2 linked regions of the Homo sapiens genome follow. The protein of the gene in region 2 interacts with the protein of the main gene of each other region in a biochemical or structural test. Each region holds a gene or a part of one and is shown on either strand. Other genes may lie near its edges.

What was found. Proteins that work in one complex are often made in the same cells at the same time.
Region 1: the proteins of SP7 (region 2) and NFIX form a complex in vitro, tested with the Homo sapiens proteins (one study listed by BioGRID).

What each region holds. Positions count from the first base shown.
Region 1 is NC_000019.10:12,998,475-13,002,261, forward strand, and holds part of NFIX (nuclear factor 1 X-type), read left to right. Parts: intron 1-3,787.
Region 2 is NC_000012.12:53,332,623-53,338,079, forward strand, and holds the start of SP7 (transcription factor Sp7), read right to left. Parts: upstream 3,733-5,457; 5' UTR 3,524-3,732; intron 3,155-3,523; exon of another isoform or gene 3,072-3,154; 5' UTR 3,025-3,071; coding exon 3,004-3,024; intron 1-3,003. UniProt on the Homo sapiens protein: Transcriptional activator essential for osteoblast differentiation. Binds to SP1 and EKLF consensus sequences and to other G/C-rich sequences.

The sequences.
Region 1 (3,787 bases), on a different chromosome or scaffold from region 2:
CCTTCTAGAAAAAGCATCGAAATTCAGGGCGGCCGGGTGGGGCGGTTCCTGGAGCTGCTGGAGTCCATTGTAGCCACAGTCCTGAGTCTCAGGCGGAGAGAGGGGTGGGGGGTGGATGGATGGACCCCCATCCCCATCCCAACCCTGCCAAGAAACAGAGACACAACCAGGATGTGAACTCACGTACACCACCATCACCGCCAAGATGGGGATGTAAGTGTCCTGTTCACACCGATGTCCAGACCCACGACCATCGACGAGCCTACAGACCTACGGACACAGGAAACCGACGACTTGTGTTCACACTGTCACACACACCCATTAACACACACGCACCTCTTGAAATGGGACACGTATATTGGTGTAGGCTTAGCGACACAGCAGTACCTCTTTGACGCACGTATGGACACAGGAAACTGTGGACTTGTGTTCACAACCACCCCCAGCGCACACATAAACACTCACAAACCCCTCGAGATGATACAGATAGCGACGAAGGCACATGGAGACCACGACACCTCCCAGACTCATGGAGCCCTGAGCACATGCTTGGATACAGGTAGACACAAATGTGTGTTCACCCCCACACATGCTCACATGGACCCAAGGACGGACAGGCGGATGGATGGATACACATCTTTACACAGAGACATAATGCAGTTGGCTCGCTCAGGTGTGTACACAAATAACTTTTCTTTTTCTATTTTTTTTTTTTTTGAGACGGAGCCTTGCTCTGTCGCCCAGGTTGGAGTGCAGTGGCGTGATCTCGGCTCACTGTAACCTCTGCCTCCCGGGTTCAAGCAATTCTCTGCCTCAGCTTCCCGAGTAGCTGGGATTACAGGTGCCCGCCACCACGCCCGGGTAATTTCTGTATTTTTTAGTGAAGATGGGGTTTCACCATCTTGGCCCGGCTGGTCTTGAACTTCTGACCTCGTGATCCACCTGCCTCGGCCTCCCAAAGTGCTGGGATTACAGGCATGAGCCACTGCACCCGGCCACAAATACCTTTTCAAACACACACACACACACACACACACACACAAATATGCACCAATGCGTGCTTCCCCCTCCTTGCCACAGGGATAAAAAGGCAAACATGCCGACATTTGCTGACACACACAAAGACATACATGGCCGCACACACGGATACACCCGCTCTCAGACACGCAGCGACCTACGCCCATTTTCCTGGCCATACAAGCAGCCGAACGTTCCTGTACTTCTGTATCTGCATAGCTCCCCCAACACTCCTTCCATGGGAGGGGGATGGCTGGGGCTTCCCTGATGCCCCCTTCCCCCAGCTTTCTCTCTGGGTCACTCTGGCCACCCCTCTGTCCCTGCGAAGCTATAGCTCTCTGTCCCTGCTCCGGCCTGGTGCCCTGTTTTCATGGCACTTGGCATTTTCTCTCCGGCTCTGGCCCTGCCTGATTCATGCCCACTGCTGGGGTGGGAGGTGTGCCCAGGTGTGGGCCGGGATGGGGTAGCTCATGAGATGAGCTGGGGCTCCGTGAGATGTTTTGATGCTGGGCCGAGCTCAGAGCCGAGGGCTCTGCCGGGAACAGGGTGCTCCAGTCTCTCTAGGGCCTGGAATGTCTTGTGTAGCCTCAAGAGCTCCCAGACGGAGGCTGCGGGAGCGGAGTCAAGGGCTAGGCTTTGCCGTCAGACAGAAATGGGTTCGAGCTCCAGCTCTACATGTTCTAATCTTGCGACCTGAAGCACAGGATTTTCCTGGCCTGTAAAATGGGCAAAAACCAGTGTCTATCTCTTGGGCTGTACTTAGGTTCAATGTGGTGCCTGGCACATAGTGTGTGCTCCATAAATGGTAATTGTTGCCAATTGTTGGTTGTCAACCTCCCAGACCCTCCCAGCTGAGAGAGGGATGCCTCTGAGGGGTAGAAGACAGGATCGAGCACCTCCCAACCATAGATATCCAAGTGGACTGCCTGGAGGAGGAGGAGGCAAGAGGAGAGTTTGGAAGGATGAGAGTTTGCACATGGCCCAGCTCTTTTACCTTTGGATGGGGGCCTGTAGGCCAAGCAGAGGGTGGCACAACTTCAAGATAGGGGAGAGATGGTGGGGGAGAGTGGGGGGCAGGAGGGGAGAGACGAGGCCTCCACTGTTCCATGAGGACCAGATACCCTGGTTGGGGGCCCTGAGTCCTGGTATAAGAGTATGTGTGCACGCATTCATCCAAATGTATGTGGGACAAAGAGACCCGGTGCATCTAGATGATGACTTCAGGGACGTCCCCAAGCTCCAGAACTTTCTGTGTCTGCACCTGGGCGTTGTCACCTGGACCCGCCATGGAGACAGGACATATGTGCAGGACCCTATGGTGGGCACTTGGCTGGATCAGGGCACATTGCGGGTGGGAGCAATGCTGGGTGTTTGGCCGTGGCGCCGTGGCTGTGGGCAAAATGCCCCCGTGGTTGGTGTGTTGACTGCCGTCCTCCCCATCTAACCCACAGGGAGCCTGGCCTTTTAAATCTGCTGAGATATTGTCTCCCCCACCCCCATGAAGCTGGAATCTGGGGACTTGCTGGACCAGAGAGGTAGGGGAGGCTGGGCACTTTCTCCAACACGGTGCTGAGAATGGGCCTTCTGTCCCCTCCCTCCCAGCTGGGGTGGGGAAAAGGAGGGGGGTGTCTTAATTTTCTTGCCCCCAAAGCCCTGGATGTGGGGGCAAGTGGGCCAGGAGGACAGCTGTGAGCCACTATCTGGGTTCTCCCAGATCGGTGTGCATGTTAATCGGCATGTCAGGCCTCAGAGCCACCATTTTCCCGAGGATGTCTGTGTGGCAGCGTGTGTCTGCCCGGGTCCCTCTCCATGCCTCTCCATGTCTCCCAGCGTCCATCACTGGGTGCTACCTGCATGTGACTCCACGGATCATCGCACGCCCTGTCTCTTGTGTATTTGGTAGTGGGGGTCGGGGAGCGTGCCACCATGCGTGTCAGTGTGCCGGATGTAGTCTCTGTGTCACGGTGGCGCTGCGCACGTCAACGGGTATTGGTGTACCGGTCACCATCTTTGTATCTGCGCTTTGTATCTGGGGTGACAGTGTCCCAGCGACATGCGTCACATCTACAGCAGTGTTTTTCTGGGTGTCTGTGCGTCACGGCAAAGAGTGTATCCGTGTGTCTCACACACGTGTTGGCCTGTCCGTGTCAACTTGTGTCCACATACGTGTCAACGCACGTGTCTCCAGTGTCATCACCCTCATATCACTGTGCCTCCTGAGCTTGTCCCCGTGACAATCACTGTGGGTCTCACCCCACGGGCGCCTCTCCTGGGCATTCCCTTGGCCTCCGAGCACCATGTGAGATGCCTGCTATGGCGGCCGGGCAAGCGGCTGGGAGCGGGCTGGCTGCTCAGTCCCTTCCCATGAGGTTGAGCGGCCGCAGTGGCCTTGCTGGGGGCCCCGCCCGTGCCCCTGGCCTGGCGTGGACAGAAGCCCGTTGTGCGGCAGCGAGGTGCGGGCGTGTGTTCGGGCCGCCCACAGGCCTCCCTCTGTCTGCCCGGCGCACATTGATCTTGGCTTCTGCCTGTGTCCGTTCTAGCCTGGCCAGCTGGGTGTCCGGCTGTCTCCGTGGGCCTGAGCCCACTATCCCCGCTGCCCCCACAGCCAGGCAGGCCCTGGGCCCCACACCCCTGGGCCACCCGCCATCCCTCCGAGGCTCTGAGGGCGCGGATTTGGAAACTGAGGTCCCCCCTTCTTTCCCCCTTTCTCTCTCTCTCTTTCCTCCCTCTCTCCTCCCCTCCTCCCCTCCTCCCGCTCCCTCTCTCCCTC
Region 2 (5,457 bases):
CTAAAAGACCAGAAAGGTAAAAAGACACAAACTAAGAAGGAGAGATGATGGAAAAGAGACTGGGCTAGAAAAGCAAAGGAAAGCAGAGAAGAAAAGAAAGGAGTGGAAAAAAGAAAAGGGGGAGGAGGAGGAAGAAGGCGGCCTTCCTACCTAAGAGAAAACCACCATGGTGCTGGGCCCCAGAAAACCCCCAGACCAGGCCACTCCTCCCTTCTTCTCCCCCCTGACCGCCCCCTCTCCCTCTGCCCAGCCCGGCTCCGATGGTTTCCCTGCGGTCGGTTTATTTTTAAAAACGCCGACGCCGTCCCCCGCCCGGCCCTCACACTGCGGCCACAGGGGCCTCAGCCAAGCCCAGGGACCCCACCCAGCTGTGGGGAGGGAAGGAGGGGTGAAAGAAGGCAGCCAGCCCCAGGCCAACAGGAGACCCCAGCCCTGGGGAGTGGAGGCCCAGAGGGCCCTCGAGGGCAGGGAATGGGGAGCGAGGAACCAGACCCACTCAGAATGCTCTGGGGGCTACAGGCTGAGCACGTGGCTAAGTTTCACCACAGCCTCAGTTTCCTTCTCTTGCTGATTGTTCTCTCCTGAGAACTTGGGGAAAGAGCACTGGTTAAGAGTTCTAAACATGTGTCCCCATACCTGATCAAATGTGTTCCCTTTCCAGGGCCCAGCAGTCCCACCTTCGAGTTGTTCCCTCCCGACCTCCACCCCACCACCCTTAAAACAAAACAAAACAAGACAAACAGAATTAAAGTATTGAAGTGGGAGTGTTTGGAAAAAGAACAAGATAGGAGCTGTCCCAACTCTCCCACCCAGATGTGGAGCAGGGGAGGGGGATCCCCTCCTCCCAGGGAGCTCATGGTGCAGTGCCCAGCCTGGCCTCCCAGCGGAAGTGCTCACTAGACATCTCAGGGCTGACTGGCCTTAGGTTTGGAGCAGTCAAGGTCCCATTTTCCAGTTCTCAACTTTCTCAGCCTTCTCCCAAGTTTCTTCGTTTTCCCAGCTTCCCAATTCTCCTTTCCCACCTAGGCCCCCAACAATTTCTTCCCCTTCCCTGTTCCCCTGAATCTCACTTGGCCGAGGTGAGCCCCCCATCAAGCAGCAGCTGCTTCCCACTGCCAGAGAGCCCACCCATACAAGGTGGAGGGCTTCCTGGGGAGGTGGGGAGGAAGTTGAGGGCCCAGGTACTCAAAAACTAGGTGCAAGTGGTCGAGGGACAGGAGGGACTGGTGTGCCTTCGTGTTGCAGGCATCTCCAGCTCACAGGAGTGAGGGGACATGAAAGTCTAGCTTCCACAACACTCTCCTTTCGCCATGCACTATCCCAATCCCATGTCTTTCCAGCAGGCCTCTGGGCCAGTCCCTCCCAAGCCACCAGCGCCACGTTGGCAACACTGGCATGATGCCCACGCCCACTGACACTGTCCCTGCCCTGGGTGGACCCAGGATTTCCATGCATCTTATTCCTCAAGACCACAGTGTTTCAATGATGGCTCAAAATAGAGTCTGTTGGGGAGGTGGCAGGATGACAGTCTGCTCCCATTGCAGCTACGGGTAGACCCCTGGCTGGATACAGAGTGTGACAAGGGACGTGGTGTCCATCTGGTTGGCTTGCATGCTATTCCCCCAAACTCAGCCACAAATTCACTATCTCACAGCCTTGTGCACACACCATTTATCACTTGGACTCACAGCACTCAGATGGCCCAACTTACACACACACACACACACACACACACACACACACACACACACACTCTCAGGGCCTGTGGCACCCTCGACTGCACCCTAACGATTACACTCAGGCCAATGAACACAGGTGTTAAAAGACTCCTGCCCCATCTCACAAACACACACCTCTCCCACAGGTTGAGTGAGTTGGCTTCCTGTTTGGCCCAGCACCCCTGGGCCTGAGCTAGGGCACTGGGAAGAGAGATGTGGGACCCAAGAATAGGGAAGAGTCAAGGCTACTGAAGGGGACTGACTTTCAGGGAGGGCCCTCTGGCCCTAAATTCCTGCAGAGAGACCCAGAAAGCAGGACAGAGATGGTGACAGAGGAACAGTGTCAGAGACCCAGAAGCAGGGAGGAATCTGGCCCTGAGTGGCTGTGAGCCCTGCCTTCCCAACTCTGTGCCTTGGGTCCCCCAGAAGCCAGAGTAGAGTCAGAAATTTCTCAAGACCCCAAACCCTGACCCCAGTGGTACCCCAATTCCCTTTGTCCCCAGCACCAGAGGCAAGGGATGCTGGGGTCCCAGCCCGGAGGGGAAGTGGCCCAGTCCGCCCTGGAGCCTCCCACTCCCAAAATAGAGCTGAGTTTGTCTTTGGCTGAAAGCTAAATATTTGTAAGCCGGGCAAGCGGCCTCAGACCCCGTCCCTCCTCCTTGGTTCCCTCACAGGCCTGGGCTCAGTTCCCCTGGTCAGCTCCCCCACAGGCACAGGCTGGCCTCCTCCTTTCTCTCATAGCCTACCTCCTCTCCTCCACACACCAGCTCACGGGCCCAGCCCCCTCCCCACAAAACCAGGCAAGATCCTGTCTGGGCTACGAGTCCCAGGAGACGGGACCCCTAAAGAGCTATACCCAGTTGCTGCTCTGTGCCCACTCAGCCAGTCCTCTCTGCCTTCTATCTCTTCTGCCAGCTTATGTATTTCCCACCCCTCTCTCCTCACTCCCCCTCGCCCCCCTCCCCCTCCTTTCTCCATCGCTTTTCCACTCCTCACAGTCAGTGTGCTTAGCTGACCTTAGGTAGGGGTCCATGCCTTCTTCTGACCTAATCCCCTCTCACCCTCTTTCCACTGCCCTCTGACCCCTGGCCCTATTCTTCCCTCCCTTTTCTCCTGCCCTCTGCTTCCCCTTTCTTGGACCCCACTCCTCTCTCCTCATCAGAAGGACCCCTGGAATTGACAAGCACCACAGCTACTATCTATGTGAGTTGGAGGAGGTGGGTGGGCAAGGACTAGGACCATTAAGGTTGTGGCTGGTTTCCTGGGGGGAAGAGGGGACAGTTACCTCAAGCAGGGAGGACGCCATCCTGAGGCTGGGGAACGGGTCCCAAGGAGCCAGGCAGATGGAGAGAGCTGAGCCGGGGGGTGGGGGGGGTAGAGAGAGAAAAGGGAGAGGGAGGGAGAATGGGAGAATGGGAGAGAAGAGATCTAAAGTTAGAAGGGACCGGGGTGGGGGGCTGCTCTCTGTCTGTAGGGATCCACCCTCTAATTACAGCTTTCCCAGCGGAGAAGGCTCCAGATCCAATGAGGAGGGCGAGAGAGGGAGGCAGAGGGTCCAAATTTCCTGCTCCATTTGCTGAGCTCCCCAAAGAAGGGATCAGGGAGGGAGAGGAGAAAAAGGGGCGCCCATGGAAGGGGTGGGAAGCAGGAAGAGGGGAGAGCAGCATGGGCAAGTTGTCAGGGCTTCCTCGGGGGGCTGCTGAGGGGAGAGGTTAAAGGGATGGTGGACCCCGGTGTCCTACACGCGGCAGCAGTCCCATAGGCATCTGTGGGCACCCCTCCCAGAGCTCCCCAGTGTCATGTACCTGGGGGAACCTGGGGCTGGCTGTCCCGAGTCTCTCCTCTCTGGAGGTCTGGCAGGGAGAGTGCAGGCAACGGGTGGCCTGAGGGTGCTGGGAGGGATCCGCTCTCTCCCAGGCCAGCTCCACTCCTGTTCCACTCAGGCTCCGGTCCTACAGTCCTACTCTGACTCCAGAGTCCTTGCTGCTGCTCGGCGGCTGCTGCTTCTGCTACTGCTGCTGCCTAGGCTGCTGCCGCCCGCCGCTGCTGAGGGAAGGAACAGGAGGGAAAAGGAACAAACCCCAAACCACTAATTAGAGATCCAGGGGGGGGATGGGGGGTTGGGGACGACACTCACACAGAGAGACTGGAACGCACTGACATACACACTCATGGCCAAACACAGGGGTGATGCATGCACACGTACACACAGTACCACTCACATGGGTACAGCCACTATCATGAATGAACACAGACGGACACACACAAATGCACACAGTGACGCACTGGAGGCACACGCACCACACCCGCCCCAGCTGACCATGGAGAGGCTTGCTTCCCCAGTCACCCACCTGCCTCTAGATCAGGAGAGCAGTGTGTATGTGCCCCTGTGTGTGTGTACGTGCCCGTGTGTGTGTGTGTGTGTGTATGTTGTGGGAAGAGGCATGGAAGGTTCTGAGGTGGAGGTTTCTGCTGCCTAAACTTTTAGTGTCACTGAGGTTGGTTCCAGAGCAAGGCCTGGAGGAAGGGTTGAAGAGTTGGGGAAGGCTTGGTATTGGCTTGGGGGTCCCTCAGTCTTCCTCCCAGTGCCTCAGTTTCACTGTTTGGAGGTGATACCTAGGCCTACCTCACTTTGTGGGGCAGAACCTGGATCTTCTGATGAAGAGAAAATTTAAGACAAGCAGGAGTGAGGGTGGCGGTAGAAGGTCATTGGGTCAACTCATTCATGCCGACACCTAACCTCTTTGGATTATTTCCCCCAAAAAGAAATGCCCTAACCTCCATATTCCTTGTCAGTTACCATCCCTGGGTAACCAAGTTACCATCTCTTAGAGACCATGGGTTTAATCTCCATCCTTTGGTGGACAGTTCTCCAGAGTGATCTGACTTTCCTGGGAACTCCTGGTTCCCTTTCTCATTGCCATGCATCAATTCCCTCTTCCACAGAAAGAACTGAAGTTAGAACTTAATAAGGACTTCCCAACAAAATAGGAAGTAAGAGAAGGAAGGGCAGCCAGGTTAGGAGGGAAACCCAAAAAGTCTATTACCTGAAACCTGGGCCATGGGCCCTGAGGTATTTATGGGAGAGAGGACTGGGCAGCTAAGTGGTGACACCGGCAGCTCTCCCACAGGGGGGCTTAGCCCGCTGGGGTTGTTTTACAGGTTATTCCTTAACACACACTTCTCCCCCTCCCAGCTCTCCCTGTCAGGGGAATAAAGCCCCATCCTTTCCACTCTCCTCACTCTGCAACACCATCCCCTCACTTTCTCGGAGTGCCCAATTCCTTGCTCCTTTTGCTCTCCCAGATCTCCAAAGAAAAAGCTGGGAGGTGGCAGGAGCAGATGGAGGTCCACGGAGGGTTGCACAGCAGTTTCGCCAGCAGGTAGGCACCAATTTCAGGGTAGGGCCCAGGAGTTCTGGATTCTAGCCCCATGATTTGATTTACCTCAAGGAACTCTGGGAACCCAAGGTTTAGGGGAAGGGTTTGGGAACCAGGTGGCTGATAGACAAAGAGAAAGCAGCAAAAGAAGAAACAGAGCAAATGAAAGAGTCCAAGACAATCAGAAGAGATATCACCAGGTATAAGAGAGAGGAAACAGGAAAACAGAAGACCAGATGTGTGGCTTTAAACAACAACAACAACAACAACAAAAAACAGAGCAGGAAAGAAACTAAAAAGATAAAGAAACAGGCCCAGAGGAACAAAGATGGGGAGACAATGGCTTGGGAAGGACAGAG